Linked DNA regions of Homo sapiens: all the other regions are linked to region 2. The links come from fine-mapping of genetic effects on gene expression. A gene starts in region 2. Each other region holds a variant in brackets. All regions are shown on one strand. Distances are from middle to middle.

Region 1 (8,000 bases), 40 kb before region 2:
AACAATAGAAATCATTAAGAACAAACACATATACAGACTACCTTAAACTTCAAAATGAGTCATGTTGGAAAACTGTTTTTGCTTTTTTTACTTCGTTCTCTTTTGATGATGATCTAAGTAACTTAGGACTACCATAACATCTAGAAAATAAAAAATAAGTAAATACAATGAGGTATCTAGAGCAGTCAAATTCATAAAAATGGAAGCAGAATAGTGGCTGTCAGGGGATGGGGGAGGGGAATAATGGAAAGTTATTTAATGGGTATAGAGTTTCAGTTTTTCAAGATGAAGTTCTGAAGATTGGTTACACCACAATGTCTATCTACTTAACACTACTGAATGGTACACTTAAAAGCAGTTAAGATGGTAAATTTTATAAAATACATATCTCCTACAATCCCGTATCAATATATAATTACTATTAAAAATTTTTCTACCTTTATTTAAACATATAGACATTCAAATGAAGTTAGTGAGGAGGAGGGTATGAAATATCTATGGATCAGTAGTAACATATTGGTAATTTGATTTCTATAATGTCTGTAACTATTTATATTCTCACAAGGAAAAAACTCATTCCACTGCACCCTGTCCACAAATGAGAATTCATTTAACATCATCTCACTGTTATTCAGTATGAGTTTCTTTTAACCTTTTTCAGACACTTACAAGCCATATGTAACTATTTCCTCAAACTGCCTAGTAATATTTTATCCACTCTTCTCTTAGGATTGCAGTGTTTCTTTCCCCCACAAACAACTGACTCTTCTAGTTTTTTTTGTTTGTTTTTTTGAGATGGAGTCTCGCTCTGTAGCCCAGGCTGGAGTGCAATGGCACAATCTGAGCTCACTGCAACCTCTGCCTCTCAGGTTCAAGAGATTCTCCTGCCTCAGCCTCCTGAGTAGCTGGGATTACAGGCTCCTGCCCAGCTAATTTTTGTATTTTTAGTAGAGATGGGGTTTCACCATGTTGGCTAGGCTGGTCTCGAACTCCTGACCTTAGGTGATCCGCTGCCTCAGCCTCCCAAAGTGCTGGATTACAGGTGTGAGCCACAGCGACTCTTCTAGTTTTTTCTAACTGTATTATTTGTCTACATATAAGTTTTGACTGTCAAATCTATCCATCTTTTCCTTTGAGATTACTTATGTTGCTTTCATACTCTGAAAGCCCTTCCTCATCCACAGATTAGAAAAATATTCACTTCAAGCTTTTTCAACTTTCAACTTTAGAATTCATCTGGAATTCAATTTGTTCTATGATAAAGCAAAACCTTAATGTCATTTCCCACCTCCTATAACTAACTTAAGTCGGCTGCTGAAATTTATCTATCATTTCTATTTCATTTGCCTTTAGAAGCAATGCTATGCAAAAGGCACTTTAGTTTCTGAGCCATCCCAAGGAAGCCTAGATAACTAATACCTCTAAAACCCCCTCCCACAGCTCAAAGGCATTGGGGAAGCAGCCGTCACTTCTCCCTTCTCTTCACCCACCTTCCACAAACATATAGGAGAACAAGTCCTTGTCTCTGCCACTGCTGCCCCCATCCCACCCAACAACATAAAGGGTCTTCCATCTTGAAAAAGGCCTGACCCAACTAAAGAATCTGTAAGCACCATTTCCTGTCCATTTTCCTTTTTAATATTACTTGCACAGCTAAAGAAAAGCAATTAAATTTTGTTAATTGACATGAAAATATACAACGGACTTAAGCCACTTTAAGGTTCTGTCCAACTTTTTTAAATGTCACTTTTAAATTAGAAATTTGTAAAAATTAGAAACTTTTTAAAATTAGAAACTCCTAAGATGGTGAGATTATACATTGTAATTTTATAAATAAAAGATATTTTCAATGATAAAAAAATTTAAACATGACAACTCAAAATTAAAGAATAGGTTGTAAAGGATTCAAAAATGTTACTACTCTTTTTGAAATAAATACATTATTTACATTAATCACAAAATATATTTAAATCCATTATTCCATTATTTAAAATAACTTTTTAAGATGGAGTCTTGCTCTGTCGCCCAAATTGGAGTGCAGTGGCACAATCTCAGCTCACATAACCTCCATCTCCCAGGTTCAAACAATTCTCATGCCTCAGCCTCCTGGGTGGCTGGAGCTACCAGCGTGTACCACCCCACTGGGATAAATTTTGTATTTTTAGTAGAGACGGGGTTTCACCATGTTGGCCAGGCTGGTCTCACTCCTGACCCCAAGTGATCCACCCACCTCGGCCTCTCAAAGTGCTGGGATTACAAGCATGAACCACTGAACCAGGCCCCATGCCTTTTTATTAAAAGTTGTTATTTTGGCTGGGCGCAGTGGCTCATGCCTGTAATCCCAGGGTGCTGAAGTGGGAGGATCACTTGAGGTCAGGAGTTCAACACCAGCCTGGCCAACATGGAGAAACCCTGTCTCTACTAAAAATACAGAAATTATCCGGGCGTGATGGTGCACGCCTGTAGTCCCAGCTACCCAGGAGGCTGAGGCATAAGAATCGCTTGAACCTGGAAGGCGGGGGCTGCAGTGAGCCGAGATCATGCCACTGTACTCCAGCCTGGGCGACAGAGCTAGAGTCCATCTCAAAAAAATAAAAAGATTAAAAAGTAAAAGGCATGGATCATTGATGATTTTGAAAATTTTTTCAGTTTCATTATTGTTTATCAGTAATGAATTAAATTATGGGTAGAAAGACTTAGTATAAGCCATTCAGAAACTAGCATAAATAAATCACTAGCCTAGTAAAACTAGGATTCCTGAGTGCTTTCTTCCCATGTATCAACCAGGAGAGAGTTTAAAGGCCATCTTGCAAATAGCACATTACAAATCACTACAAAATCTTCCTAAAAAAATTGTTCAAATAAATTAAGAGTTTCTAGTATAACTATCTTTCAAGACACTGCCCCTCAGCCAAAACCATGTACTTTAAAAAGACTGCAGTGCATACTCTAAAACACAACTCAGCCGGGTGTGGTGGCTCACGCCTGTAATACTAGCACTTTGGGAGGACAAGACAGGTGGATCACCTGAGGTCAGAAGTTCGAGACCTGCCTAGCCAACACAGTGAAACCCTAACTCTACTAAAAAATACAAAAAAAAAAAAAAAATAGCTGCCGTGGTGGTGGGCGTCTGTAATCCCAGCTACTCAGCAGGCTGAGGTAGGAGAATCACTTGAACCCAGGAGGTGGAGGATGCAGCGAGCCGAGATCATGTCACTGCACTCCAGCCTGGGCAACAGACTGAAACTCTGTCTCAAAAAAAAAAAAAAAAAAAAAAAAAAAAAAAACACCACCCAATGCATACCTCCATTTCTTCAGACTCTGCCTTATTTTCTGCTGGTGTCTGCTGCTGTTGCTCTTCAACATGTGGTTCCTCCTGGTCCACTTGCATCTTCTGAAAAACAGGTCAAATTAAATCCTGCAATTAGGAAGACTAAACAACCTTCATTACACATTGACAAAGTCACATAGTTATGTAATTCCTGCTGAATTACCAGCAATCAGAAGGCCTATGCTAAAATTCCAGGTAGGCCACATTACCTAGGACACAGAAGTTTTCCGCTCTGGATCTTAGTTAATACATCTGTACAATGAGGATAACACTCGCCCTGCCCTACCCTTACATACACAAGAATAACTGTGGAACTGCTTTGTACACCATTAAGTACTCACAGTTCACAATGTGGCATCATTTAATACAATCTACAAAATACAACCTGAAGAGAGCATAAGCTTCTCCAGGCTTCCTCAAAGGTATTTTCTCTCAAAAGTTCCAACTTTTTCAAATAGTTCCTAAGTCAGCCTCTCTTCATCCTCAAAAGTATGACCACTGCATGTGCTCGGGGAGGCGAACACGTTAAAATTACAAAGCCTAAAAATAACAATGAAAGAAGGTTTGTGGAGAGCCTGAACCAGTGGCTTCTCAATGCCTGCAACATATTAGAATGACCTGAGAGGCTTTTAAAACTACTGCTACCTCAGCTCAGACCAACTTCAGTAAAATCTGTGGGGATGAAACCCAAGCATTTGTAGTTTTGTTTTCCTTGAGGCAGGGTCACACTCTGACACATAGGCTAGAGTGCAGTGGCGCAAACAGGACTCACTGCAGCCTTGACCTCCTAGGCTCACGCAATCCTCCTGCCTCAGCCTCCCATGCAGGTGGGACCACAGGTGTGTGCCACCACACCTGGCTAGTTTTTTTGTTGTTGTTGTTGTTGTTTTTAACTTTTTGTAGAGATGAGGGTCTCACTTTGTTGCCCAGGCTGGCCTCAAACTTCTGGGCTCAAGCAATCTTCCTGCCTCAGCCTCCCAAAGTGCTGGAATCATAGGTAATTTGTAGTTTTGTAAAGCTTTGATTCTGATGCACAATGAAGACAAGACCCAGTGCATAATTCCAACAAATGAGTGTACAATCAATTCTACTTTTGAAAATAATTAACTGAGACTCAGAGCACTCTTCAACAACCAGAATCAGGAATAACTCAAGTTGAGAAGTGTATGATCTGAAAGAAGAAATCAACTTGTGTTCCACTTCTATACAAATTCTGCATAAAAATCTACTGCTGGTTCACTTATATTGGGGGAAGGGCAAACATACAAACCCACTCTCACTCAGCAGCTCTGTCACAATGCTCCGGCCTTGCCACCAAGTCTGCTTGCTACAATTTCTAGACAAGTCACCTCTGGGCCATCACAAGTGGTATACAATGTCTAGATTACCTCTTCCTCCTTTGCATTCTGATCTGTTTCCATTGGCTCCTCATTTTCCTCAGACTTGTGAACCTCCACTAAAGATGCACTGGACACACTGAAAATGCCATGGACATTTACTCGAACTTTGACTTTCACTTTTGAACTGGAGCCATCAGACTGAGGAGTGACTTTCTGAACTGAAAACTGAGCTAGGGACATACGAGAGACAAAAGAACACAT[AAC/C]CTAAGAGGATGAATTCAAGCATGAATATATGCCTACATTGCTAGATTATGTCTACTTTCAATGATAGCTCAGTAACATGATGCTTAAAATAAGCAAAATCGGTCCTTTTAGAATCTTATTAAATCATCAGATTTCTCTTTCTTCTTTCACAGTCTCTTATTATCTTATCCTGCCCCAATTAAGAACTCAAATATCTCCCGATTCTTTCCTTTCTTCCAATTTCTTATTTCCATTTATCTTTATATGCTACTTTCAGATTAATTCCTAAAACAGATTTGTCACATTCTCTACTCAAAAAACAAAACAGAAAAAAAAAATGATTCCACTCTGCTTGTCGTTTATCAGTAAATTGCCATTTCTAGGTCCAGTGACTGTACAAGGTTTTTATTTACATTTTCTTCATTCCCAGAACTCTGCAAAGTATGAATTATCATTGTTATTCCTGGTTTTACAGATTTACAGATGGGGAAAAAAGAATAGGTTAACTTTCCACAGCTTCTAAATGCCATTCAGGATACTCCTAATTTCTTTACCCATATATTCTAGGTCTTTATACTATAACTAGTTTCTATCTCTTCTCAACTAGTATTATTTCCAGATAAGAGTTTCCCAGAGTCTATAACTACTCTAGATAACACGGTTCTGAAACCTAGTATGTTTTGATATTGTATCACCATCTCCTAATGATTTTCTATATACATCCTTTTTTTTTTTTTTTTTTTTTTTTTGAGACAGAGTCTCGCTCTGTCGCCTAGGCTGGAGTGCAGTGGCGTGATCTCAGCTCACTGCAAGCTCTGCCTACCGAGTTCACGCCAGTCTCCTGCCTCAGCCTCCCAAGTAGCTGGGATTACAGGCGCCCGCCACCACACCTGGCTAATTTTTTTTTGTATTTTTTTAGTAGAGACGGGGTTTCACCATGTTAGCCAGGATGGTCTCGATCTCCTGACCTGCCCGCCTTGGCCTCCCAAAGTGCTGGGATTACAGGCGTGAGCCACCGCACCTGGCTATTTTCTATATACATCTTATAACTGTATGTTAGGGTCCAAACTGAATTTCGTTAACTCCTTATAGTATATAGCACCACCTTATACATAAGTTATAATTACAATGTGCGCTAACCAAGAAAAACTGCCGATACAATGGGAGATCCAATTAAATAACAGCCATTTGGCTGGTTCTAAACCTGCTAACGAGACTGGAAGAGGTTTTCTTTTGCAATCTAAAGCCCCTAAATTTCAGAATACCATACTTGTTCTTTCTACTATGCGAACTCTCCAAGTAGATAAGCTTTTTTTTGTTGTTGTTTAAATGGAGACAGGGTCCCACTATGTTGCCCAGGCTGATCTCGAACTCCTCAGCTCAAGTGATCCTCCCACCTTAGCCTTTCAAAGTGTTGGGATTACAGTTGTGAGCCACTGTGCTTTTTTTTTTTTTTCTTTTTTAATTTCCAACTCTTTACTTACCTATAGCAGGATCTGGATAGGGCAAATCCTGAGGAGAGCTGTAGTAGGCCTCAAGAGTGAAAGGTTCCTTTCTATAAAATGTAAGAACTTTAGAGAAAGGAGCAGCATGATTTTTGGAAAAGACTTCACAGTCACTGAATGGAGGAAAAAGACAAAAACACAAATTCAGGATATTCCTAACACTTTTACCCATGTGTTCTAGGTTTGTAATTATTGTACAGTGTTAGTTTCTCTCTCTTTTCAATTGGTATTATTTCCAGATTATAAGAGTTCCCAAGAATCTTTATATATAAAGTCAGTAAAAAAGGAATATACGTCAATCTGCACATAAAAGGCACTGATGATTTCAGCAGAATCAAGTGTGAGAAACTAATTAAGGACACAAATTTATTCTGACTAAAATAAATGACCACTTCCTTCATGCACTATGATAAAATGTTACAGATTTATGTAAACTGAAATGAAAAGCAACATATTACTCAGACCTAATAGTCAATTAACTTTAGATATGTAAATGATTAATAAACATGATACCTTGACCCTTCTTCAGCTGGAGAATTCCATCTCAGAGATATTGGATATGGTACTACATCAGTGATAGAAAATTCTCTGACTTTGAAAGCAGGCGATAAGATGGCACACTAGAATAATAATTTTCAAAAATTCCGTTTAACAAGTATAGACAATATAAACTGATAATATCACTTAAACATACAAATTACTTCAGAAAATCAATGGTCTTTTTAAAATATTTATATTAGTAATTTAATGGTGTCTGAACAGTTTTACAAACTTCTATCATGTCAATTACCTATATAATCTAGCTATTCCTTATTTTTCTATTAACCCCAACCCTTATTTAATTAATGTACACTATTTCATACAGACATACATAACAGGCCAAACTTCCAGTCATACTTCAGGCTCAGAGTTACCTATGTTTCTAGTCAATTAATTCATCTTATGTGCTATAGAGTACAATTATTTTTAGGAACATCACCTCTATTTTAAAACAAAGGTTTTGGAATCTCAACACCCTGAAGTCACCCTGAGCTAATCCCAGGTTATTAGATACATAAACCACTGCCATCTTGTTACAATGATTTATAAATGGTTACCTATAAAAGAAAGAATATTCACCTGCAATGCACAGCCTCGAGTGACAGCTTCATCAGCATTTAATGTTGTACTAAGTTCTTTACCGAAAAATTTGCTGATCTTCTCTTTTACCGCAGGGATTCGTGTAGCACCACCAACTATCTCCACTGCATAAATATCTTCTTTCTTTAACTCTATTTTTAAAGAATTAGACAGATTTTTTTAATGAAATGAAAGAACAATAACATCTTACCATGATGAAATAACTCAGATGTGTAACAAAACTCCTCCAACTCCCTCACCCACCTCCGCAACACACACATACTCATGCCCACACTCACAGAGGCAGGTGGCATCTGGAAACAAGTAGGTGTTTTAATTCTCAAAATAATGGGGGAAGGGTAGCTAGTGGGATTTAGGAGGTGAGGGCCAGGAATCCTCAAATGTACTGCAGTGTACAGGTCCTGAATTTCTCACACAATCTCACACAAACAAGTGTTAAAA
Region 2 (8,176 bases):
GCTGAAAGAGTCGTGGCTGCTCTTCAATGTATCAAGGATGCAGCTCTTCTTGCTCAGGTCTTTCCCACTTGCTGTTCCTTCTGCCTGGAACAACTCTTCCTCAAACCTACTGTGACCTCCAAGGTAAAATCCTACTCATCCTCAGGTCTCAGATGGTACTTCTTTCAAAGCACCTTCTACCCAACTTATTTTTGAGACAGAGTCTCGCTCTGTCACCTAGGTTGGAGTGCAGTGCATGATCTCGGTTCACTGCAACCTCCACCTACCAGGTTCAAGCGATTCTTCTGCCTCAGCCTCCAGAGTAGCTGGGACCACAGGCGCCCGCCACCACACCCAGCTAATTTTTGTATTTTTAGTAGAGACAGGGTTCCAGCATGTTGGCCAGGCTGGTTGCGAACTCCTGACCTCAAGCGATCCTCCTACCTCAGCCTCCCAGAGTGCTGGGATTACAGGCATGAGCTATCGTGCCAGGTCCTTCCATCCAATTTAAATTAGACCCGCTTATTCTATACTCTCACTGTATTCTGTACTTTTCCACCTTGCCCTTTACCACAGTTAGTAATTACTACATATTTTTGTTTAGTATTTGGTTTAATCCACCAGCCATGTCCATAATGGCATGACCTTATTTGTTCACCACAGTACCTCCAGTGCTTAGAAAAATGGCTACCACATCAGAGGCACTCAACATCTGATAAAATGAAGGAAGCCTAAATTGGGTGGAAAATCAAGGGTCTCTTCTGGATGAGACTCCACTGGCTCCTCAAAAACCTAATCCAGATTGTTACACCCATATCTGAAACGAGGTACTTCCACCATCATAAACCCTCTAAGACTTGCATCTCATTTCCACTCTCATGTTAAAACAAACCCACAACATGCAGTCTTTTTTACATATGAGCTCCAAATCCATTCCTCCATAACCGCTACCAAAAAAAAAAAAAAAAAAAAAAAAAAAAAAATCAACCTTCCTGCTACCATTTTCTATTTAGCCCAAGACTCCAAAACAGAGTAATCAAAGTGAATCAAAATCATACAGTTCAGAAATCACTTGAAATGTATGGCATGCCTGTAAGTTAATGAAAACTATGAAGGAAAATATAAAGAAAACATGTAAGGAAAATTATTTAAATGGAATTTTCTTATCACAATTCCGTGGTGTATGGGGTCATATATATCACAATGTCTTTGAGGCAAATTTTTTATCTGCAACAACTCAGTTTCAAATAGAATTCATGGTATAATTGTTGTAGCTATTGTCTTTCTAAAAGAAAAACAGGAGCATGTGATAATAATCTAAAAGAAAGGATAGGAACACTGTTCTTCCCCATACTTGGGATTCTCTTCCTGTGCGCCCTTTGGAACTAAAGCGTGTTCAATCACAGGGCAGGAAAGGACCAAAACACTAAATACATTAACTCAGCGCTTTAGCCTTTTCAGTTCCTTAGGGGAGACATTTTATAGACCAAGAAAACACGGATACAAAGATATTCTCAAATACTAAAATGCTTAAAAACAAACTTTAATGCTTAAAAAAAAACTTCAGGGCACAATACACTTCCCTGGAGATGCCAAGTTAGACTACCCATTGTTAAAAAGTACAAATAGGGAAAATAAACTGCTAAAGGGCACAGGGCTTTGGGGGAGTGATAAAAATGTTCTAAAATTGATTACAGTAATGGTTGCACTGTTTTGTGACTACACTAAAAACGATCACTTCATCTGGTTAAATTGTATAGTATATGAATTAAACCTTAATAAAGCTGTGCCAGGTGCGGTGGCTCACTCCTGTAAACCCAGCACTTTGGAAAGCCGAGGCAGGCAGATCACTTGAGGTCAAGAGTTCGAGCCCACCCTGGCCAACATGGTGAAACCCTGTCTCTACTAAAAAAGACAAAAATTAGCCAGGCGTGGTGGCGCACACCTGTAATCCCAGCTACTCGGGAGGCTGACGCAGGAGAATCGCTTGAACCCAGGAGGCGGAGGCTGCAGTGAGCCGAGATTACGCCACTGCACTCCAGCGTAGGGAACAGAGTAAGACTCCTTTTCTCAAAATAAATAAATAAATAAATAAACCTTAATAGGGCTGTTAACAAGACTAAACTCAGCAAAGGGACAGCAAACTACCGTTTTGGCTTCTGGGATGAGTTTTCAGGGGAAGCACCTGGGTTAGGAGGTGGGGGGTGCGGAAATTTGACAAGTGGAAAGGAAATGTGAGACTTCTGAACAATCTAGTTTCGCTGAAACCTGCTGAAGAAATGTGACAAAAATTGAGGGTGAAAATAATGGACCTTAGAATTGAGCCCCTGGGGCCGGGCACCGTGACTCACGCCTGTAATCCTAGCACTTTGGGAGGCCGAGGCGGGAGGATCACTTGAGGTCAGGAGTTCGAGACCAGCCTGGGCAACTCGACAACACCCCGTCTCTACTAAAAATACAAAATTTAGCCGGGCATGGTAGCACGCGCCTGTAATCCCAGCTCCTCAGGAGACTGAGGCAGGAGAATCGCATGAACCCCAGAGGCCGAGGTTGCAATGAGCCGAGAGCATGCCACTGCACTCCAGCCTGGGGCGACAGAGCGAGACTCCATCTCAATCAATCAATAACAAGTGAGCCCCTGGGCAGGGCACGGTGGTTCATGCCTGTAAGCCCAGTACTCCAGAAGGCCGAGGCTGGAGGACTGCTTGAGTCCAGAAGTTCGAGACCATCCTGAGTGACATAGTGAAACCCGATTTCTACTAAAAATAAATAAAATTAGCCAAGCATGGTGGCGCACGCCTGCAACGCCAGCTACTCAGGAGGCTGAGGTGGGAGAATCACCTGAGCCAGGAGCCAGGGAGGTCGAGGCTGCAGTGAACCAAGATCGCACCACTGCACTCCAGCCTGGGCAGCCAGAGTGAGACCCTGTCTGTCTCAAAAAAGAAAAAAAAAAAAAAAAAAAGAAGAGAGACCCTGAATGGCAAATAATACAGAACTTCTTACAAGATTTTGTCTAAGAACACGACAACGGATTAAAATGTATCTACAAGTATTCAAAAGGCAGACACTGTAACCAGTGAAAGACCTGAGTGACCCACCATTTTTTAGAACTGTGTCTATGCTGGTCCCAAAACTTACTATGGGTTCTAGAAGTCAAGGCGGGCCCTTGAGCCACTAACAATTGTGGCCAACACACTGGTTAGAATGCATTATCGTTAAAGTGCAACCCTATTGAGGGGTTAACGCGCACAAAACAGAGAGTGACCCAATATAGCACAATATCCCGAAATAATGTGGAAAACAAAAGCGATTGCAAAGTTATCATAAGAGCACCGATTTTATTAAATTCCTATCCGTGCCAACCCAATCTCAAGACCCCGAGTCCATCCGGAACCCGTGCCTGAGGCTGCTCCAGCTCGCTCTCTTCCGGGCGCTGCCCCGCCCCCACTCACGTGGGACGCTGACCGCTCCACGGTCTCGCGGCTGGCAAGCCCCAGAACCCGTTCGATTCAACTATTATTAAGCGCCTGCTGTGTGCAAAGTTCTGAGCTTTCTGTTGGACTCAAAAGACTCAGTACGACCTGGGCCTGGTCTCTGCCCTCAAGAAAAGGACCGCGATCCGTTTACATCCTAGGCCTGCAGTCCTTCCAGTTCCTACCCGTGCCCTCCGCTGGTCCGAGTACCGGCCAGAAGCCTTTCTTCGGCCGACGGGCCACCGGGGAAAAGGCCCTCGCGCTTAGCACACACCCACGCTCATAGTGGGCCGCGGCCCCTAGTGTCCTAATACCTACTGGGGGTCCCTGACCTACCGGGACCTCGGCTCGGAACGGAGGCGACTCCTCGGCCCGCGTTCCCCAAGCAGCGAGGGTCCCAGACTGGAACAAGCATTATCTCCTAACCCCAGTGCACGCGGCAGGCCCGGCCCACACTTACGGCGTGCAGCGGTCGCTATACTCATTAGCGATAGTCTCGATGCCGCCGGCGCGGGCCACAGCGACGTAGCAGCTCTGGAAGCCCAGGTCTATGCCCACCACCGACATGGCGCCGGCTACTGCTCGGGCTCGGGCCCGGGTCCGGCCACCGAGACAGGACACGGACCCCCGGCGGGGCTAGCGAGTGGAAAGCAGGCCTCTTGGGCCGAGGCTACTGAGGGGCTTGCGGTGTCCACGCGAGCGCCTAAGTCCTTCCAGTGGGTACTGCAACCGAGAGCGCTGCTCAGGCCGGCTCCGGCTCAGTGGCCGCAGAGGAGGCGCCGGTAGCGGGGGCGGAGAAGATCTCGAAAGATCTCGTTGCGACGAGAGCGGAGCCGCAGCACCAGAGCTACGAAAGAACGGGATGTTCTCGCGATATCCCGGCTCAGGCGCTTTTCCCCTTGAGGCCCCGCCCCCAGTACGTCTGAATACGTCACGTCCTGGCTCGAGAACCTGGGAAAGGACTGGGTGGCTGAAAGATGGCTGGAAAGCGCATTTAGCCAACCGAGCCTGCGCATGGAACCTGCGGCGCTGCACAGCTGCATAGAGATGTGGAGCACCTCCCTTTACCGTAGAAAGTAGGCGAGCCAGCTCGAGGCACTATACTGAGGAAGCGCTGCGGCCTACTTCCGCCGTTTTTCTTAACATCAAAGAAACTTCCGGTAGTGGGGTGTCTTGCATTCCACCGTGTCGGTGCCCCAGAATGAGACGCAAGCTGATCTGCAGATCCCGCAGGGTGCCTTCTGCTCTTTTCGGGGCAGGTTGGCCGGTAGGGGAGAAGGCCGCCATTGGAACGCGGCCTTTATGTCGGGTTCTCTCAAGAGTCTAAGATCGCACCCTCACCAGCGGAGGGAAGGAGCCCACTCCCAGCCACACCGCTTTGTTTTCTTTCGCTTAGCCTTGTTGCGCCGTTCTCTAAGCCACTCATGTCCTTAGATCAGATTGAGGGGCCCGCAGGATTTAAGCCTTTAATCCACAGCACATTCCAAGCACCTACCCGGTGGTAGGCCCTAACAAGGAACACAGGCAAGTGACACGCTGCCTGGCCTGAAAGGTCCGCTCAGACCTTTACATGAAGTTAATAAATGTTAAGCTTCAGGGCCCCTCGCTTGTATGGCCTCCTGGGAGAATAGATAGTTGCTGAGTTGTGGAGAGGGGAAGCCAGCTTGAGATTAGGAAGCAAATCTATGTAAGCATTTCTAATAAATTACCCAGAGAGATCTAAGGAGAATCTGAATCTCCAAGTCTCTAGTAATGTGTTGTGATTTGTCGTTTTAATTATTTGTTTTGTGTATTTGTAGGGCCCCCCAATGGTATATAAGTTTCACCTCTGCAAAACCTGGATCATCCCCATCATGAGGGTGGCTAAACAAGTAAAGGTGACCCCAGTACAGAATGGCGAGTGCTATATGCACAGAATGGTGGAGACTAGGACAACTTCCCAGAAAAGGAAAAGGCTGTGTTCAAGTTTGGAAAACTAGCAATAGAGACCATAGTTTAAGGACTAAAAAGAAATTCTCCGTTGCTGGAGGGTACATCATGAGTTGAAGGTCTCAAGGCTAGAGTACCTGCCCTTCAGCCATTTTAAAAGTGAATGAGCAAAGAAGAAATTACATTGCCCTGGTATGCCCTTCCCTTTAAATACCTGCATTTCCTGCCACCTCCGGAGGTACTTCACTCTATAGGAGCAACCCCAAACCCGGGTTGATTACCATTAAAACTTGCAAATGGCCACACTGTTCTCACATTTTGCCTAACTAAAACCTGTTAATTCTTCAAAGACAAGTACCAGGTGCTACCTGTAAAAGGGTACTGGGAATAAAAAGAGTAGAGGCAGCCAGGAACAGCCTTTGGAAAAACGAGAGCAGGGACATATTTGTACATTGTATACCCATGTTCATAGTAGTTTATTCACGGTAGCTAAAAGGAGGAAACAATCCACATGTCCATTGACAGATGAATGAGTTTTCTAAATTTAGTGTATACGCGTAACAGTACATTATACAGCTTTGAAAAGACAAAGGAATGAAAGTCTGATAAATGCTACAGCATGAATGAACCTTGAAAATACGCTAAGTGGAAAGCCAAACAAATCAAAATTAATTTTTTTTAATTTTTAATTTTATATTCAAAATTTAATATGATTCCACTTGTATCAGGCACCTACAATAAACTACATAAAGACAGAAAAGCGGTTTCACAAGTAGAGTGAAATGGAGAGTTAAGGGATACAGAGTTTCAGTTTGGGAAGATGAGAAAGTTCTGGAGATAGATGCTGGTGGTAGTTGCATAACAATGTGCATGATCAGTGACAGATTTGTACATTTAAAAATGATGAAAATGGTAAATTTTATGTATATTTCACCACAATTTTTTAAAGTTTTTTTAAGTTAGGTTGACCTTGACCTTCCTTCCTCTGTTTTTCTCCTACCTAGGGGCAATATCAATAATACCAAGCACACTGTTGACCTTAATTATGACAGAGTCCTGTCTCCATCTGTTTATCTCAGTTGTTAATCACTGAGCAAACAACCCGAGCTGCCTAAGCTAAAGTGTCCAGTGGACCTAAAAGATCACTGTCTGTGTTACTGCCTGTTTCTGCCTTCCTTCTATTGGAAGACCTCCCTAGGTCTTAGCTAAGTTGATGAAAATTACACCCATATCTTATTATGTTCCAACTTCATACCTCAACTGCCTTGTTTGCCTTGGTACTGCTTTCAGTTTAAAATACCACCAGCCCTATCAATCTTTTTAATGATTTGTCCTTCTCAAAATAAAACATAACTACCATCAGTCACAGAGAGTACTCATCCTCCTATAAATAGTTTCCTGGATCATCAAACTTATAGCTTAAGAGATTATTCTGGGATATTTAAATAAATGAAGTCAGGAAAAGGTTATTTTAGAATCCTGAAGAATCTAACGTGGCAAGTTTCCAAGTATCACAGTTGCGAACCAACGAAGTGTCCAGAATATTTAATGTTGGAGGCACTGTGTTCGGAGAACAAATTCTTTCCATTTGGCAGAGTATCTTAGGTATTTAAGTATTTTAAAAGCAGGAAGTTGTTAAATGCCACTCTCAAATACAACGATTAAATTTAGTCCTAAGCAATCACAGAAGTGTTTGTTTTTAAATATACAGTGTTCATAGGCTGCCCAACAAAAGACAAAAGGTTCTCCATCAGCTGGGGACTCATATTTCTCCCTGACAAGTGTCCAGTGGAATCCTGCCCTACGCTCTGGAGCAGCTTCTGCAATTTTTTGCTTCACAAGGAAACTACCTGCTCAGATAATGGTGATTTTCTGACTTCCCTGATCTTACAGTGAGTGGAGCAATGCTTTTAGTCAAAGCAACAACCCTTTCTTAAACACCAAAACTCCAATAACTCAATAATAATGGTAATTACCATGTCTCTGGCATTCCTACAGCATATGCTAGCATTACGCCAGACACTGTATTGATACCAATATAATTCCTTTACTCGTCATAGCAAGCCCATCAGGTAGGTGATATTTTTCCTATTTTATAGAGACCTGATAAGGTTAAGGTACTTGTTCAAGGTCACACAATTTTCTCACAACTACACTGCTTCTCTATTTCTTCTTTTAGATGATCGCTTTCTGTCACCCAGACTGGAGTGCAGTGTCACGTTCATAGCTCACTGCAGCCTGGGCTCAAACAATCCTCCCACCTCAGCCTCCTGAGTAGCTAGGACTACAGGCATGTGCTGCCACATACAACTCATTTTTTCATTTTTTTGTAAAAATGAGGATCTCTTAGCCAGGCACAGTGGCTCATGCCTGTAATCCCAGTGTGTCCAGAATTGGTAGGTTCTTGGTCTCCCTAACTTCAAGAATGAAGCTGCAGACCCTCGCGGTGTTACATTTCTTAAAGATGGTGTGTCCAGAGTTTGTTCCTTCTGCTGTTCGGACGTGTCTGAAGTTTCTTCCTTCTGGTGGGTTCGTGTTCTACGCTGACTTCGGGAGTGAAGCTGTAGAACTTTGCAGTGAGTGTTATAGCTTTTAAAGGCAGCGCAGTCTCAAAGAGTGAGCAGCAGCAAGATCTATTGTGAAGAGCAAAAGAACAAAACTTTCACAGTGTGGAAGGGGACCTGACCAGGTTGCGCTGCTGGTTGTTGGGGAAGGTGGGGGGCACGCAGCCTGCTTTTATTCCTTTATCTGGCCCCACCCACATCCTGCTGATTGGTCCATTTTACAGAGTGCCA
Region 3 (8,000 bases), 21 kb before region 2:
AAAAACCTCCATCTCAAAAAAAAAATTACAATTTCTTAGTCACTGGGTAAATTAAATTCAATTTAATTCTGCATTACAGCCCTTTGCCCTGATTTTTTGGAAACTGAAATCTCGTGTATAACAAATGCATATGTAAAGAACTATCAACATGTTGGAATATTCAATTTATCAGAACAAAAACATTAGTCTACATTATTAACCAGACCCAACTTTACATAAAAAGCAGGGTCCTGAATGGCTTCTAATTTTTAAAATAGAACCAAAATTATCATATAACCTCCGTGATTATTTTAACAATTAGCCAATTAAAGGTTAATATATGTGGAGAAAACTCACTCTTCACTTTAACATCGAAATAGTAATATACTTACCTATTCATAGTTCCAGATACATCAACATCATTCATAAAACATTCAATGCTCAAAGGGAGATCTGAAGCATTTGCACTCATCAATTTCTTGAGTTTCTCACACTCCTGAGAGAGTCGTAATAATGCACGGATTTTGGACTTAATGTCTAGCTTGTATTTCTTCCCAAATTCTTCACAGAAGTGATTTACTAACACTTCATCAAATTTTCTACCTCCCAATGTCGTGTCAAATGCAGTGGCCAGAACCTTAAGGAAAAAATGAGAATTAATCTAACAATTAACCAATCGATTTTGAAACAGATGATATATATTTACCTGGTAAGTTGTTTATCTAAAAAAAAAGAGGGAGGGTTACATTAAGGTTAAAACAAAGCAATGTATACATCATTTAATCCTTATTACCCCACACTGTAAAAATAGGCACTATAATCCCCAATTTACAGATAATGCTACAGACCTAGACAGATGAGATAAACTGCAGTTCACAAAGCTACTAAGTGGTAGAAGTGGAATTCAAAGCCAAATCTCCTTAATTCCAAAGTCCATGCCCTCCCCACTACACCAGTCTGACAACCAATAGCAGTTACATGTCCAAGGTAAAATATACTAACATGTCATGTACATACTTCTAGTCTACTCAGTATCACAAAACTGAGTAATACCAAAGGCTCAACTCTCTGCAGTTTACTACCAAAGGATTCCTTAAAGCCTTAGCTCACCGCAATGTGTTTCTATTTAACCTGGAAGTCTAATTAGCCTGGGTTACCCGTTTTCAAATCTCTAACAGATTAGAAGCAAACTAGATCTAATTAGATTCAGTAATAGAAGTTAGGCTAAATAAGTGATGACATCCTTATGAAGGAATAAAACCAGTAAAAACAATCTCTTCAAAGAATGCTACACGTCATGGGGGAAATTTTCTTAGTATGTTAACTTAAAAAAAGACAGGACACAGAGCTAAATATAGTGACTCCAATTCTGTTTTCTTAGAAAATTAGAATGAAATACATCAAGCTGTTAAGAATGGTAAGATTGTAAGTAACTTTTCTTTATTTTTTTTTCTTTTTTTTGAGACAGGGTCTCACTCTGTTGCCCAGGCTGGAGTGCAGTGGCACAATCTCAGCTCACTGTAGCCTCGACCATCCAGGCTCAAGCAATCCCGCCACCCCAGCATCCCAAGTAGCTAGGACTACAGGCACACATCACCACATCCAGCTAATTTTTGTATTTTCTTTGTAGAGACGGGGTTTTGCCATGTTGCCCAGGCTGTTCTCAAACTCCGGGCTCAAGCAATCCCCCCACCTCAGCCTCCAGAGTAGCTAGGACTACAAGCACACCGCCACACCCAGCTAACTTTTGTAGAGACAGGGTTTTACCATGTTGCCCAGACTTGTCTTTACACATAAATGTTTTCCAATTTGGGGAGATTTTTGTAATGAATATTTTTATAATTTAAAAGTAATCAAAAGGATTGCAAAACTGACAGGTGACAGGTAACACAGAAGGACAATTTAGAAAAACAGAAGCAGATGGCTACTAATACACATCGTTCTGATCCAAAGCCAGGCTAAATTATAACCAGAGTCTTCCGTTTAAAAAGATGAAAGCATAGCATAGATCTTAGAAATTCTATTAGTGATTAAAGTTTAAACACTGAGAATTACATTTGGTCCACCATTTATAGCTGTCAAAAAGCAAAATCACAAATCTCTCATTTCCCAATTATCTAAAAGACTCGCTTTCTTTTTATTTAAAAACAAAACCACCTAGAAACAATATAAAACCAGAAAATAAAGTGGAAACGTCTATTTTTCAAAGAAACAAGACCATAACAAATGAAGTCTCAAAATGCCTCCAAAATTACCAAATATTTAGTTTGGGGTAATCCCTCTCCACCAATCTCCAATGGGTACAAGGCAGTCAATTCAGACCTTGGCACCAACAATTTTAATATACAATTCAAATAATTAAAGCAAACACTTGAGAAATCCTTGGTTCTTCACCAAATTCTAGATAAAATCATCTAGACAGAGAATTTTATACCCTACTGTGGAACTAGCATAAACCAGCAAACTCAACTATGACAGAGATCAATCACCCTCTGGCCCCTCCTTGCCTTCTATACTTCTGTGTGTACAAAACTGCTTAAACTTTAGGCTTTCTAGAAATCTATAATTCCTAGTCCAGTTTGTTTTGGCATCCAAAAGAAACCCCTTTTCCAGAACACTCAAAACCTCATGAGCAAGAGTACAGAGCACCTGTACCACCCTCTCAATCCCCAGTGTAAAATTCACCAAGGAACTACATGTTAAAAAATCCTCCTGCTGGGCGCCGTGGCTCACGCCTGTAATGCCAGCACTTTGGGAGGCCGAGGCAGGTGGATCACCTCAGGTCGGGAGTTCGAGACCAGCCTGACCAACATGGATAAACCCCGTCTCTACTAAAAATACAAAATTAGCCGGGCGTGGTGGCACATGCCCGTAATCCCAGCTACTAGGGAGGCTGAGGCAGGAGAATCGCTTGAACCTGGGAGGTGGAGGTTGCGGTGAGCCAAGATCGCGCCATTGCACTCCAGCCTGGGCAACAAGAGCGAAACTCTATCTCAAAAAAAAAAAAGAGAAAAAAAAGAAAGAAAAGAAAAAAAATCCTCTGAATAACCCTGTAAGGTATGCATTGTTTCTCCCATATTGTAGATGAGAAAAAATCATTGTCTCTCAAAATTTCATAATTACCATACTACTAACAGTCTTCTGGAAAAAAAATATATACTTACTTTCAGTTTTCCTCTATTAAATGCACATACAGAAACTTGATAAGCAGAGTGGCCCATGTCTACAAAAACTACATTTCTTGGTTTCTCTTCTAAGGCAGGAAGATCCTGCTTATAGATTCCATATGCAAGAGCAACTACAGAAGAAAAAACACAAAAATTAAAAATAACGTCTAAGTAAATAAAATTCATTTAAGCAGGAAAAAAGAGGTTTTATATATAACGAATGCAACTACATGTGTTATGTTTTAGAAATCAAATTCTTTATAAGCACTGTATAATTTATTCAAGAAAAAGATTATCTTCCAAGAGTTAAATACTGATATTCACTTAGACTTCCTTACAGTTGCCAATGGACTTTGGCATAATTTTCTCCAAGCCATTTCCCCCATTTTCCAAATATATTTTCCTGGATCTTTTCTACCCCTATGCTATGTTAACATCCCCGCATGTTCTGTCCATGAGATGCTGCTTAATGTCCCATTCCTCTGACTCTACCAGTCCACAAGTCTAAGAGAAGACCAGTCTTTAACCCAAAGCACTGCTCCACACGCTAAGTGTTCTCCTTCCCCAACAAGCATGTGTTTAAATACCAAAATGCATGCTATAAAGGTACACAAAAAGCACTGGTCAGATTAATTCTTCACAAGTGACACAGTATCCAAAAACACCATGACCACAGTGGTAAGCAAGAGCAGCAGTGCTGAAAGCAAAATAAAGAGCAAGAAACCCCAGGGTTTTAAAATTTCACAATCTTCAAGATTAACCAAGTCAAAAAAATAATCAACGGTCCTCCTTACCTGCAGTGGTTTCATTCATTAATCGCAAGCAATTAAGACCAGCAATCTGTGTTGCATCCATCACTGATCGTCTTTCTGCATCAGTATAGAAACAAGGAACCTACAAAAAAAAAAAAGAATGCTTACTGTATTATAGATTCTAATTTTAGTTAGTAAAATCCAGGAACACCATCAAATACCTACAGCAATTTATTCTGTATATGATCAAGAAAATATTTCAAACTAGTAGGGAAAAGTTAGAATATTTAGTAAGCAGTGTTAGGATAAACAAATAGCCGTACCATTACCTTACATATACTCATTACATGGCAGACCAAAATACCAACAGCTGAAGTAGTGACTGCAGAGAAGAGTTAATATAAAGGCCAGAAACTGCTATCCTTAGAAAACACCTGCTTGCATGTTGGTCCTTGCCTGGCATCTAGGACCTTGATTTGC[A/G]AACAGTTCACTAAATCAATAGAAAAAATTTCCCTAAATGATTAAGAGTGGTTCACTGTACCTAAACTGTTTATATAAACATGCAGCTTGTGCTGACTACCGGCTTTCCTTCTGGGAGTTGGAATTTTGGTTCATGCTAGGTATAGGGTACCAATGTGACAGACCCCTGATGAAAACCATGGACTAGCCAGGCGTGGTGGCTCACGCCTGTAATCCCAGCACTTTGGGGGGCCGTGGTGGGTGGATCACCTGATGTCACGAGTTTGAGACCAGCCTGGCCAACATGGTGAAACCCCATCTCTACAAAAAATACAAAAAAAAAAAAAAAATAAACCACTAGCTGGGTGTGGTGGCACATGCCTGTAATCCCAGCTACTCCAAAGGTTGAGGCTTGAACCTGGGAGGTGGAAGCTGCAGTGAGCCAAGATCATGCCACTGCACTCCCAGCTGGGAAACAAGAGCGAAACTCAGTCTCCAAAAAAAAAAAAAAAAAAAAAAACAACCCTGGACCAGGCTAGGCAGAACTCCTGTGGTAGAGGACATTTCACCCGTATTGTTACAACCTGTTGCTGGAGTTAAGCACAGGCTGACTCTGGGAAGCTTGTGCCTGGTTTCCTCCAGACTCTGCCTCATGTGCCTTTTCCCTTTGTTGATTTTGCTTTGTATCCCTTCACTACAATAAATCTTAGCATGAGAATAGCTATACGCTAGGGCCCGTGAACCCTCCTAAGCAAATTACCAAAACTCCAGTGTGATCTTGAGGCCCCACCCAAACATGACTCAACACTATCACCTTTTAACTTGATACCCAAAACTGGAAGACACTTACGCATTCCAATATTTTACATAAATTTTACTCCCACACAGAGTGTTATGCAGGATCAAAGCTAGGGGCACTAGATGGAGGAATGGAAACAAATCTGGGAGACCAATGGAAGAGCTGAGGAAAGGTAGGAAACATCTAAGAAATACAGGATCTGGTGTATCAGCCACTGGGGAATCAAGGTCACTGAATCTGAGCTTTTTAAAGGAACACAGAATTTTCATTCTTCTATAAAGAATAAAGCCCACCCCCAGAATGGTGTACACAACTATAATCCAATTCTTTCTGACAAATGTCAATTCTACTTTACAATAACCAAGGACCAAGAAATCCGCCAGGCAACAGACTCTGGGGTGAAAAAGCCACCTAACAGTCCTTGCTTTGCCAATCAATGCACCAACATTAAGACAAAAGAGGCCATGAAACTAAAGTATCAGGTAACAATTACAGAATGAGGAGATTCGGTGGCAAAGCCAATGTAACCACACATATTTCAACAGTCCCTAAGGATTCCACCAAACTAAAGCACAAAACTACAGTAGCCAGGCTTCCATCTTAACAGGGATATGCAAAAGATAAAGTCAACTGCTGCCATGTCTTTGTTTTTTGGATAAGTTTTTTGAGACAGGGTCTCAGTCTGTTGTCCAGGCTAGAATGCAGTGGTGTGATCACAGCTCACTGCAGCCTCAAACTCCTGGGCTCGAATGAGCCTCCCAAGTAGCTGGGACTACAGGTGTGTGCCACCATGCCCAGCTAATTTTTTTTTTTTTTTTTTTTTTTTTTTGGTAAAGACAGGGATCTCATTGTGTTGCCCAGGCTGGTCTCAAACAATCTTCCTGCCCTGGCCTCCCACAGTGCTGGGATTAAACCACCATGCCCAGTCCTTGCCTTTGTCTTTAACGCTAGATACCAACAGCAAATACAAATACAGAACAAGTGCCATTTACAATTAGGGGTATCCAACTAATTCAACAAATGAGTGGCTACCCTGTGCTATGCTAGGCGATGAAAAAAATACAGGAAGAAGTGGGCAGGCTGAGATGAATGCACCTTGAAAAACAGAAGAGATTTAAATAGGCAGAATAACAAAGGAGGCCTGAGCAAAAGCTAAGCAGCAGAAGAGAGTAAGAAAATGAAGACTAGTTTCATAAATTTTTTTTTTCTTTGAAACAGAGTTTTGCTCTTGTCACCCAGGCCGAAGTGCAATGGCATGATCTCGGCTCACCGCAACCTCAGCCTCCCGGGTTGAAGTGATTCTCCTGCCTCAGCCTCCCGAATAGCTGGGATTACAGGTGCCCATCACCACGCCCAACTAATTTTTGTATTTTTAGTAGAGACGGGGTTTTACCATGTTGGCCAGGCTGGTCTCGAACTCCTGACCTCAGGTGATCCACCCACCTTGGCCTCCCAAAGTGCTGGGATTACAGGCGTGAGCCACTGCACCCGGCCTGACAAACATTTTAAATAACCATTACAACCTGAGACAAAAAAACAAGTTTACTTGAAATTAGCAGCTTTCTTCTCTCTGCTTCTTCATGCAAATTCCCAATAATGTATAGGGATCAAACTCACCGAAACAACACAGTCAACTACAGGCTTCTTAAGAACACTTTCGGCTGTCTCCTTCAGTTTGGACAAAAGCATGGCAGTCACTTGCTCAGTGGTAAAATTTCGCTCTTCCTCCATATATGTCACCTGCAAGAAAACAACAAAGGGGCCTAGACTTATTATATTTCTTTCTTCATGTCCTAGTCCTAAAAGCTAAAATGAACAATGCTTCCCATTATCAATGCAACATTATCTCAAGAGGGGATTGAAAAAAAAAAAAAGCTAGTTTTCGAAGTAATACCTTGAAGGTCACTTTTAGCTTCTTTTTTTATTATTATTATTATTTTGGAGGCAGGGTCTCTCTCTCTGTCATTCTCTCTCTCTGGAGCGCCGTGGCATGATCACAGCTCACTGGAGACTTAACCTCCTGGGTTTAAGCAATCCTCCTGCCTCAGCCTCCCAAGTAGCGGGGAGCAAAAGCACATGTCACCATACCTAGCTAATTTATTTTTTTCTTGCAGAGACAGGGTTCTTGCTTTGTTGCCGATGCTGGTCTCAAAACTCCTGGCTTCAAGGAATCCTCCTGCCTCGGCCTCCCAAAGTGCTGGGATTACAGGCATGAGCCACCACGCATAGCCTATTTTAGCTTTCAACCAAACACGATACTTGGAGATGAAGGACCACAGTGTAAAACAACAAATCTTAAGACAACTTCCTTTGCAAAGACAAATCAGTGTAGCTCACCATGACCCACACTGTCCCTCCATAAAGAGGCTGCTGGTAGAAACTATTTTACTATCTGACATACTATGTGTATTTTAATGTGTTTACTGTTTATTATCCATCTCCACAATTAGGATTCAATCTAATATGAGGACATGCATTTGTCTGATTGTTCACTGCCATAGCTCCAGCACCTAGAACAGGACCTGGCACAATATATACTGGTTGAATTAAATAATAAAAGATGGGCTAGGTGCAGTGGCTCACACCTGTAGTCCCAGCATTTTGGGAGGCTGAGGCGGGCAAATCACTTGAGGTTAGGAGTTCAAGACCAGCGTGACCAAAATGGTGAAACCCCATCTCTACTAAAAACACAAAAAATTAGCTGGGCATGATGGTCCATGCCTGTAATCCCAGCTACTAGGGAGACTGAAGCATGAGAATTGCTTGAACCCAGGAGGCAGAGGTTGCAGTAAACCTACATCGTGCCACTGCACTCCAGCCTAGGTGACACAGTGATATTGTCTC
Region 4 (8,216 bases), 540 kb after region 2:
TATTAGATTTGGTCAGATGCTTTTTCTGTACCTAGTAAGATGATTTTTTTTTTTTTTTAAGACGGAGTTTCACTCTTGTTGCCTAGGCTGGAGTGCAATGGTGTGATCTGGGCTAACTGCAACCTCTGCCTCCTGGCTTCAAGAGATTCTCCTCCCTCAGCCTCCCGAGTAGCTGGGATTACAGGCATGTGCCACCATGCCCAGCTAATTTTGTATTTTTAGTAGAAATGGGGTTTCACCATGTTGGTCAGGCTGGTCTTGAACTCCTGACCTCAGGTGATCCACCCACTTCAACCTCCCAAAATGCTGAGTTTACAAGCTTGAACCACTATGCCCAGCCCAATCATATGGTTTTTGTCCTTTATTCTGTTCTATTAGCATGGGGTATTAAATTTCTTTAAATTCCTGGGATAATCCCATTTGGTCATGGTGTATGCTCCTTTATATATGTTCCTGGATTTAATTTACTAATGTCTTATTGAGGATTTTGCATTTCTGTTCAATAAGGAATATATCTTAGTCTGTTTTGTGCTGCTATAACAGCATACCTGAGACTGGGTAATTTATAGTGAATGGAAATTTATTTTCCCATAGTTCTGGAGGCTGGGAAGTCCAAGATCAAGGTGCCAGTAAGGCACCTGCTACATCATCATGTCACAGAAGGTGGAAGGGCAAAGAGGCAAAAGGAGCCCAAACTTGCTCTTTTATAATGGTGTAAATCTTATCTTTGATCAGGTTGAAGAGTTCCCTTCTATTTGTAGTTTATTGAGCATTTAAAAAGATTATACCCAATAATTGGATTCTGTCAAATGTGTTTTCTGCATTGATATCTGCATCAGTCAAAGCTAAAGAGATTTTTCCTCTTCATACATTTAGCATGGTGGATTACACAGATTAATTTTTTTTTTATTATTATTATACTTTAAGTTTTAGGGTACATGTGCACATTGTGCAGGTTAGTTACATATGTATACATGTGCCATGCTGGTGCGCTGCACCCACTAACTCGTCATCTAGCATTAGGTATATCTCCCAATGCTATCCCTCCCCCATCCCCCGACCCCACCACAGTCCCCAGAGTGTGATATTCCCCTTCCTGTGTCCATGTGATCTCATTGTTCAATTCCCACCTATGAGTGAGAATATGCGGTGTTTGGTTTTTTGTTCTTGCGATAGTTTACTGAGAATGATGGTTTCCAATTTCATCCATGTCCCTACAAAGGACACGAACTCATCATTTTTTATGGCTGCATAGTATTCCATGGTGTATATGTGCCACATTTTCTTAATCCAGTCTATCGTTGTTGGACATTTGGGTTGGTTCCAAGTCTTTGCTATTGTGAATAATGCCGCAATAAACATACGTGTGCATGTGTCTTTATAGCAGCATGATTTATAGTCATTTGGGTATATACCCAGTAATGGGATGGCTGGGTCAAATGGTATTTCTAGTTCTAGATCCCTGAGGAATCGCCACACTGACTTCCACAATGGTTGAACTAGTTTACAGTCCCACCAACAGTGTAAAAGTGTTCCTATTTCTCCACATCCTCTCCAGCACCTGTTGTTTCCTGACTTTTTAATGATTGCCATTCTAACTGGTGTGAGATGATATCTCATAGTGGTTTTGATTTGCATTTCTCTGATGGCCAGTGATGATGAGCATTTTTTCATGTGTTTTTTGGCTGCATAAATGTCTTCTTTTGAGAAGTGTCTGTTCATGTCCTTTGCCCACTTTTTGATGGGGTTGTTTGTTTTTTTCTTGTAAATTTGTTTGAGTTCATTGTAGATTCTGGATATTAGCCCTTTGTCAGATGAGTAGGTTGCGAAAATTTTCTCCCATGTTGTAGGTTGCCTGTTCACTCTGATGGTAGTTTCTTTTGCTGTGCAGAAGCTCTTTAGTTTAATTAGATCCCATTTGTCAATTTTGGCTTTTGTTACCATTGCTTTTGGTGTTTTGGACATGAAGTCCTTGCCCACGCCTATGTCCTGAATGGTAATGCCTAGGTTTTCTTCTAGGGTTTTTATGGTTTTAGGTCTAATGTTTAAATCTTTAATCCATCTTGAATTGATTTTTGTATAAGGTGTAAGGAAGGGATCCAGTTTCAGCTTTCTACATATGGCTAGCCAGTTTTCCCAGCACCATTTATTAAATAGGGAATCCTTTCCCCATTGCTTGTTTTTCTCAGGTTTGTCAAAGATCAGATAGTTGTAGATATGCGGCATTATTTCTGAGGGCTCTGTTCTGTTCCATTGATCTATATCTCTGTTTTGGTACCAGTACCATGCTGTTTTGGTTACTGTAGCCTTGTAGTATAGTTTGAAGTCAGGTAGTGTGATGCCTCCAGCTTTGTTCTTTTGGCTTAGGATTGACTTGGCGATGCGGGCTCTTTTTTGGTTCCATATGAACTTTAAAGTAGTTTTTTCCAATTCTGTGAAGAAAGTCATTGGTAGCTTGATGGGGATGGCATTGAATCTGTAAATTACCTTGGGCAGTATGGCCATTTTCACGATATTGATTCTTCCTACCCAGGAGCATGGAATGTTCTTCCATTTGTTTGTGTCCTCTTTTATTTCCTTGAGCAGTGGTTTGTAGTTCTCCTTGAAGAGGTCCTTCACATCCCTTGTAAGTTGGATTCCTAGGTATTTTATTCTCTTTGAAGCAATTGTGAATGGGAGTTCACTCATGATTTGGCTCTCTGTTTGTCTGTTGTTGGTGTATAAGAATGCTTGTGATTTTTGTACATTGATTTTGTATCCTGAGACTTTGCTGAAGTTGCTTATCAGCTTAAGGAGATTTTGGGCTGAGACGATGGGGTTTTCTAGATAAACAATCATGTCGTCTGCAAACAGGGACAATTTGACTTCCTCTTTTCCTAATTGAATACCCTTTATTTCCTTCTCCTGCCTGATTGCCCTGGCCAGAACTTCCAACACTATGTTGAATAGGAGCGGTGAGAGAGGGCATCCCTGTCTTGTGCCAGTTTTCAAAGGGAATGCTTCCAGTTTTTGCCCATTCAGTATGATATTGGCTGTGGGTTTGTCATAGATAGCTCTTATTATTTTGAAATACGTCCCATCAATACCTAATTTATTGAGAGTTTTTAGCATGAAGGGTTGTTGAATTTTGTCAAAGGCTTTTTCTGCATCTATTGAGATAATCATGTGGTTTTTGTCTTTGGCTCTGTTTATATGCTGGATTACATTTATTGATTTGCGTATATTGAACCAGCCTTGCATCCCAGGGATGAAGCCCACTTGATCATGGTGGATAAGCTTTTTGATGTGCTGCTGGATTCGATTTGCCAGTATTTTATTGAGGATTTTTGCATCAATATTCATCAAGGATATTGGTCTAAAATTCTCTTTTTTGGTTGTGTCTCTGCCCGGCTTTGGTATCAGAATGATGCTGGCCTCATAAAATGAGTTAGGGAGGATTCCTTCTTTTTCTATTGATTGGAATAGTTTCAGAAGGAATGGTACCAGCTCCTCCTTGTACCTCTGGTAGAATTCAGCTGTGAATCCATCTGGTCCTGGACTCTTTTTGGTTGGTAAACTATTGATTATTGCCACAATTTCAGATCCTGTTATTGGTCTATTCAGAGATTCAACTTCTTCCTGGTTTAGTCTTGGGAGAGTGTATGTGTCGAGGAATGTATCCATTTCTTCTAGATTTTCTAGTTTATTTGCGTAGAGGTGTTTGTAGTATTCTCTGATGGTAGTTTGTATTTCTGTGGGATTGGTGGTGATATCCCCTTTATCATTTTTTATTGTGTCTATTTGATTCTTCTCTCTTTTTTTCTTTATTAGTCTTGCTAGCGGTCTATCAATTTTGTTGATCCTTTCAAAAAACCAGCTCCTGGATTCATTGATTTTTTGAAGGGTTTTTT[G/TG]TGTCTCTCTTTCCTTCAGTTCTGCTCTGATTTTAGTTATTTCTTGCCTTCTGCTAGCTTTTGAATGTGTTTGCTCTTGCTTTTCTAGTTCTTTTAATTGTGATGTTAGGGTGTCAATTTTGGATCTTTCCTGCTTTCTCTTATAGGCATTTAGTGCTATAAATTTCCCTCTACACACTGCTTTGAATGCGTCCCAGAGATTCTGGTATGTGGTGTCTTTGTTCTCGTTGGTTTCAAAGAACATCTTTATTTCTGCCTTCATTTCGTTATGTACCCAGTAGTCATTCAGGAGCAGGTTGTTCAGTTTCCATGTAGTTGAGCGGCTTTGAGTGAGATTCTTAATCCTGAGTTCTAGTTTGATTGCACTGTGGTCTGAGAGATAGTTTGTTATAATTTCTGTTCTTTTACATTTGCTGAGGAGAGCTTTACTTCCAACTATGTGGTCAATTTTGGAATAGGTGTGGTGTGGTGTTGAAAAAAATGTATATTCTGTTGATTTGGGGTGGAGAGTTCTGTAGATGTCTATTAGGTCTGCTTGGTGCAGAGCTGAGTTCAATTCCTGGGTATCCTTGTTGACTTTCTGTCTCGTTGATCTGTCTAATGTTGACAGTGGGGTGTTAAAGTCTCCCATTATTAATGTGTGGGAGTCTAAGTCTCTTTGTAGGTCACTCAGGACTTGCTTTATGAATCTGGGTGCTCCTGTATTCGGTGCATAAATATTTAGGATAGTTAGCTCTTCTTGTTGAATTGATCCCTTTACCATTATGTAATGGCCTTCTTTGTCTCTTTTGATCTTTGTTGGTTTAAAGTCTGTTTTATCAGAGACTAGGATTGCAACCCCTGCCTTTTTTTGTTTTCCATTGGCTTGGTAGATCTTCCTCCATCCTTTTATTTTGAGCCTATGTGTGTCTCTGCACGTGAGATGGGTTTCCTGAATACAGCACACTGATGGGTCTTGACTCTTTATCCAACTTGCCAGTCTGTGTCTTTTAATTGCAGAATTTAGTCCATTTATATTTAAAGTTAATATTGTTATGTGTGAATTTGATCCTGTCATTATGATGTTAGCTGGTGCTTTTGCTCGTTAGTTGATGCAGTTTCTTCCTAGTCTCGATGGTCTTTACATTTTGGCATGATTTTGCAGCGGCTGGTACCGGTTGTTCCTTTCCATGTTTAGCGCTTCCTTCAGGAGCTCTTTTAGGGCAGGCCTGGTGGTGACAAAATCTCTCAGCATTTGCTTGTCTATAAAGTATTTTATTTCTCCTTCACTTATGAAGCTTAGTTTGGCTGGATATGAAATTCTGGGTTGAAAATTCTTTTCTTTAAGAATGTTGAATATTGGCCCCCACTCTCTTCTGGCTTGTAGAGTTTCTGCCAAGAGATCCGCTGTTAGTCTGATGGGCTTTCCTTTGAGGGTAACCCGACCTTTCTCTCTGGCTGCCCTTAACATTTTTTCCTTCATTTCAACTTTGGTGAATCTGACAATTATGTGTCTTGGAGTTGCTCTTCTCGAGGAGTATCTTTGTGGCGTTCTCTGTATTTCCTGAATCTGAACGTTGGCCTGCCTTGCTAGATTGGGGAAGTTCTCCTGGATAATATCCTGCAGAGTGTTTTCCAACTTGGTTCCATTCTCCACATCACTTTCAGGTACACCAATCAGACGTAGATTTGGTCTTTTCACATAGTCCCATATTTCTTGGAGGCTTTGCTCATTTCTTTTTATTATTTTTTCTCTAAACTTCCCTTCTCGCTTCATTTCATTCATTTCATCTTCCATCGCTGATACCCTTTCTTCCAGTTGATCGCATTGGCTCCTGAGGCTTCTGCATTCTTCACGTAGTTCTCGAGCCTTGGTTTTCAGCTCCATCAGCTCCTTTAAGCACTTCTCTGTATTGGTTATTCTAGTTATACATTCTTCTAAATTTTTTTCAAAGTTTTCAACTTCTTTGCCTTTGGTTTGAATGTCCTCCCGTAGCTCAGAGTAATTTGATCATCTGAAGCCTTCTTCTCTCAGCTCGTCAAAATCATTCTCCATCCAGCTTTGTTCCGTTGCTGGTGAGGAACTGCGTTCCTTTGGAGGAGGAGAGGCGCTCTGCGTTTTAGAGTTTCCAGTTTTTCTGTTCTGTTTTTTCCCCATCTTTGTGGTTTTATCTACTTTTGGTCTTTGATGATGGTGATGTACAGATGGGTTTTCGGTGTAGATGTCCTTTCTGGTTGTTAGTTTTCCTTCTAACAGACAGGACCCTCAGCTGCAGGTCTGTTGGAATACCCTGCCGTGTGAGGTGTCAGTGTGCCCCTGCTGGGGGGTGCCTCCCAGTTAGGCTGCTCGGGGGTCAGGGGTCAGGGACCCACTTGAGGAGGCAGTCTGCCCGTTCTCAGATCTCCAGCTGCGTGCTGGGAGAACCACTGCTCTCTTCAAAGCTGTCAGACAGGGACACTTAAGTCTGCAGAGGTTACTGCTGTCTTTTTGTTTGTCTGTGCCCTGCCCCTAGAGGTGGAGCCTACAGAGGCAGGCAGGCCTCCTTGAGCTGTGGTGGGCTCCACCCAGTTCGAGCTTCCCGGCTGCTTTGTTTACCTAAGCAAGCCTGGGCAATGGTGGGCGCCCCTCCCCCAGCCTCGTTGCCGCCTTGCAGTTTAATCTCAGACTGCTGTGCCAGCAATCAGCGAGATTCCGTGGGCGTAGGACCCTCTCAGCCAGGTGTGGGATATAGTCTCGTGGTGCACCGTTTTTTAAGCCGGTCTGAAAAGCGCAATATTCGGGTGGGAGTGACCCGATTTTCCAGGTGCGTTCGTCACCCCTTTCTTTGACTCGGAAAGGGAACTCCCTGACCCCTTGTGCTTCCCAGGTGAGGCAATGCCTCGCCCTGCTTCGGCTCGCGCACGGTGCATGCACACACTGGCCTGCGCCCACTGTCTGGCACTCCCTAGTGAGATGAACCCGGTACCTCAGATGGAAATGCAGAAATCACCCGTCTTCTGCGTCGCTCACGCTGGGAGCTGTAGACTGGAGCTGTTCCTATTCGGCCATCTTGGCTCCTCCCCCCACAGATTAATTTTTGTATGTTTAATAACTGTTACGTTCCTGGGAGAAATCCCACTTTGTCATGGAATATAATCCTTTTAATACGTTGCTGTATTTGGTTTGCTAGTATTTTATTAAGGACTTTTTCATCTATGTTCATAAAGTATATTGGTCTGTAGTTTTCTATTTTCTCTTGAGTCAGTTTTGGTAGTTTATGTGTTTCTAGGAATTTGTCAATGTTATCTAAGTTATCTAATTTTTTGGCATACATTGCTCATAGTATTCTCTTATAATCTTTTGTTGGTAAGGTCTGTAGTAATGTCCCCACTTTCATTTTTTATTTTAGTAATTTGAGTCTTCTCTCTCTTTCTCTTTTGGTCAGTCAAACTATAGGCTTGTCAGTTTTTAACTTTTCTATTGTTGTTCTATTCTCTATTTTGTTTATCTCTGCGCTAACTTTTATTATTTCCTCTCTTCTTCTTGCTTTAGGTTTAGTTTGCTCTTCTTTTTCTAGCACCTTAAAATGGAAGGTTAGGTTATTAATTTGAGATCTTTCTTTTTTTAAAATGTAACTGTAAAGGTGTAAATTTTCCTCTGAACACTGCTTTTACTGTATTCTATCAATTTGGGTACATTGTATTTTCATTTTCATTCATCTTAAAATATTTTGTAATTTCCCTTTTGATTTCTTCTTTGCCCTATGGGTTCTTGAAAAGTACATTGTTTAATTTCCACATATTTGTGTATTTGCCAGATTTCTTTTTGTTGTTGCTTTCTAATTTCATTCCTTTTTCGTAGGAGAAGATATTTTATTTGATTTCTTTTTTTTCTTTTTTTTTTTTGAGATGGAGTTTCGCTCTTGTTGCCCAGGCTGAAGTGCAATGGTGTGATCTCGGCTCACTGCAACCTCCACCTCCTGAGTTCAAGCAATTCTCCTGCCTCAGCCCCTCGAGTAGCTGGGATTACAGGCATGCACCACTACGCCCAGCTAATTTTGTATTTTTAGTAGAGGTGGGGTTTCACCATGTTGGTCAGGCTGGTCTCGAACTCCTGACCTCGGGTGATCTGCCTGTCTCGGCCTCCCAAAGTGCTGGGATTCCAGGTGTGAGGCACCACACCTGGCCCTGTTTGATTTCAATCTTGTCTAATTTATTGAGACTTGTTTTGTGGCCTAACACAATGTCTCTTCTATAGAATATTTCCATGTGCAGAGAAGAATAATATGTATTCTGCTGTCATTGAATGAAATGTTCTGTAGATGTCTGTTAGGTTTGGTGGCTTTTATTGTTGTTCAAGTCTTCTAT

Evidence for each region. PIP is the estimated chance that this variant, and not a neighbour inherited with it, causes the effect.
Region 1: its variant is fine-mapped to the expression of HSPA4 in whole blood (INTERVAL, PIP above 0.99).
Region 3: its variant is fine-mapped to the expression of HSPA4 in whole blood (INTERVAL, PIP above 0.99).
Region 4: its variant is fine-mapped to the expression of HSPA4 in monocytes after triphosphate RNA (Kim-Hellmuth 2017, PIP 0.95).

The regions. Positions count from the first base shown.
Region 1 is chr5:133,088,094-133,096,093 of GRCh38, reverse strand. HSPA4 (heat shock protein family A (Hsp70) member 4) reads right to left here. Exons shown (of 19, transcript NM_002154.4): 9 at 7,539-7,690; 10 at 6,933-7,039; 11 at 6,399-6,532; 12 at 4,720-4,901; 13 at 3,305-3,394. Among named protein-coding and RNA genes, the nearest start is that of HSPA4, 40 kb to the right of the region's middle. The variant AAC/C (reference allele first, on the strand shown) is at 4,933.
Region 2 is chr5:133,048,094-133,056,269 of GRCh38, reverse strand. It overlaps HSPA4 (heat shock protein family A (Hsp70) member 4), which reads right to left and starts at 4,257. Exons shown (of 19, transcript NM_002154.4): 1 at 3,913-4,257. The coding sequence starts at 4,019. RefSeq lists enhancers at 2,081-3,043, 4,282-4,461, 4,652-4,701, 4,772-4,821, 4,008-4,970.
Region 3 is chr5:133,069,270-133,077,269 of GRCh38, reverse strand. It overlaps HSPA4 (heat shock protein family A (Hsp70) member 4), which reads right to left. Exons shown (of 19, transcript NM_002154.4): 4 at 6,774-6,896; 5 at 3,941-4,040; 6 at 3,144-3,277; 7 at 372-616. Among named protein-coding and RNA genes, the nearest start is that of HSPA4, 21 kb to the right of the region's middle. The variant A/G (reference allele first, on the strand shown) is at 4,379.
Region 4 is chr5:132,512,682-132,520,897 of GRCh38, reverse strand. No RefSeq gene overlaps it. Among named protein-coding and RNA genes, the nearest start is that of IRF1, 26 kb to the right of the region's middle. RefSeq lists an enhancer at 1-122. The variant G/TG (reference allele first, on the strand shown) is at 3,891.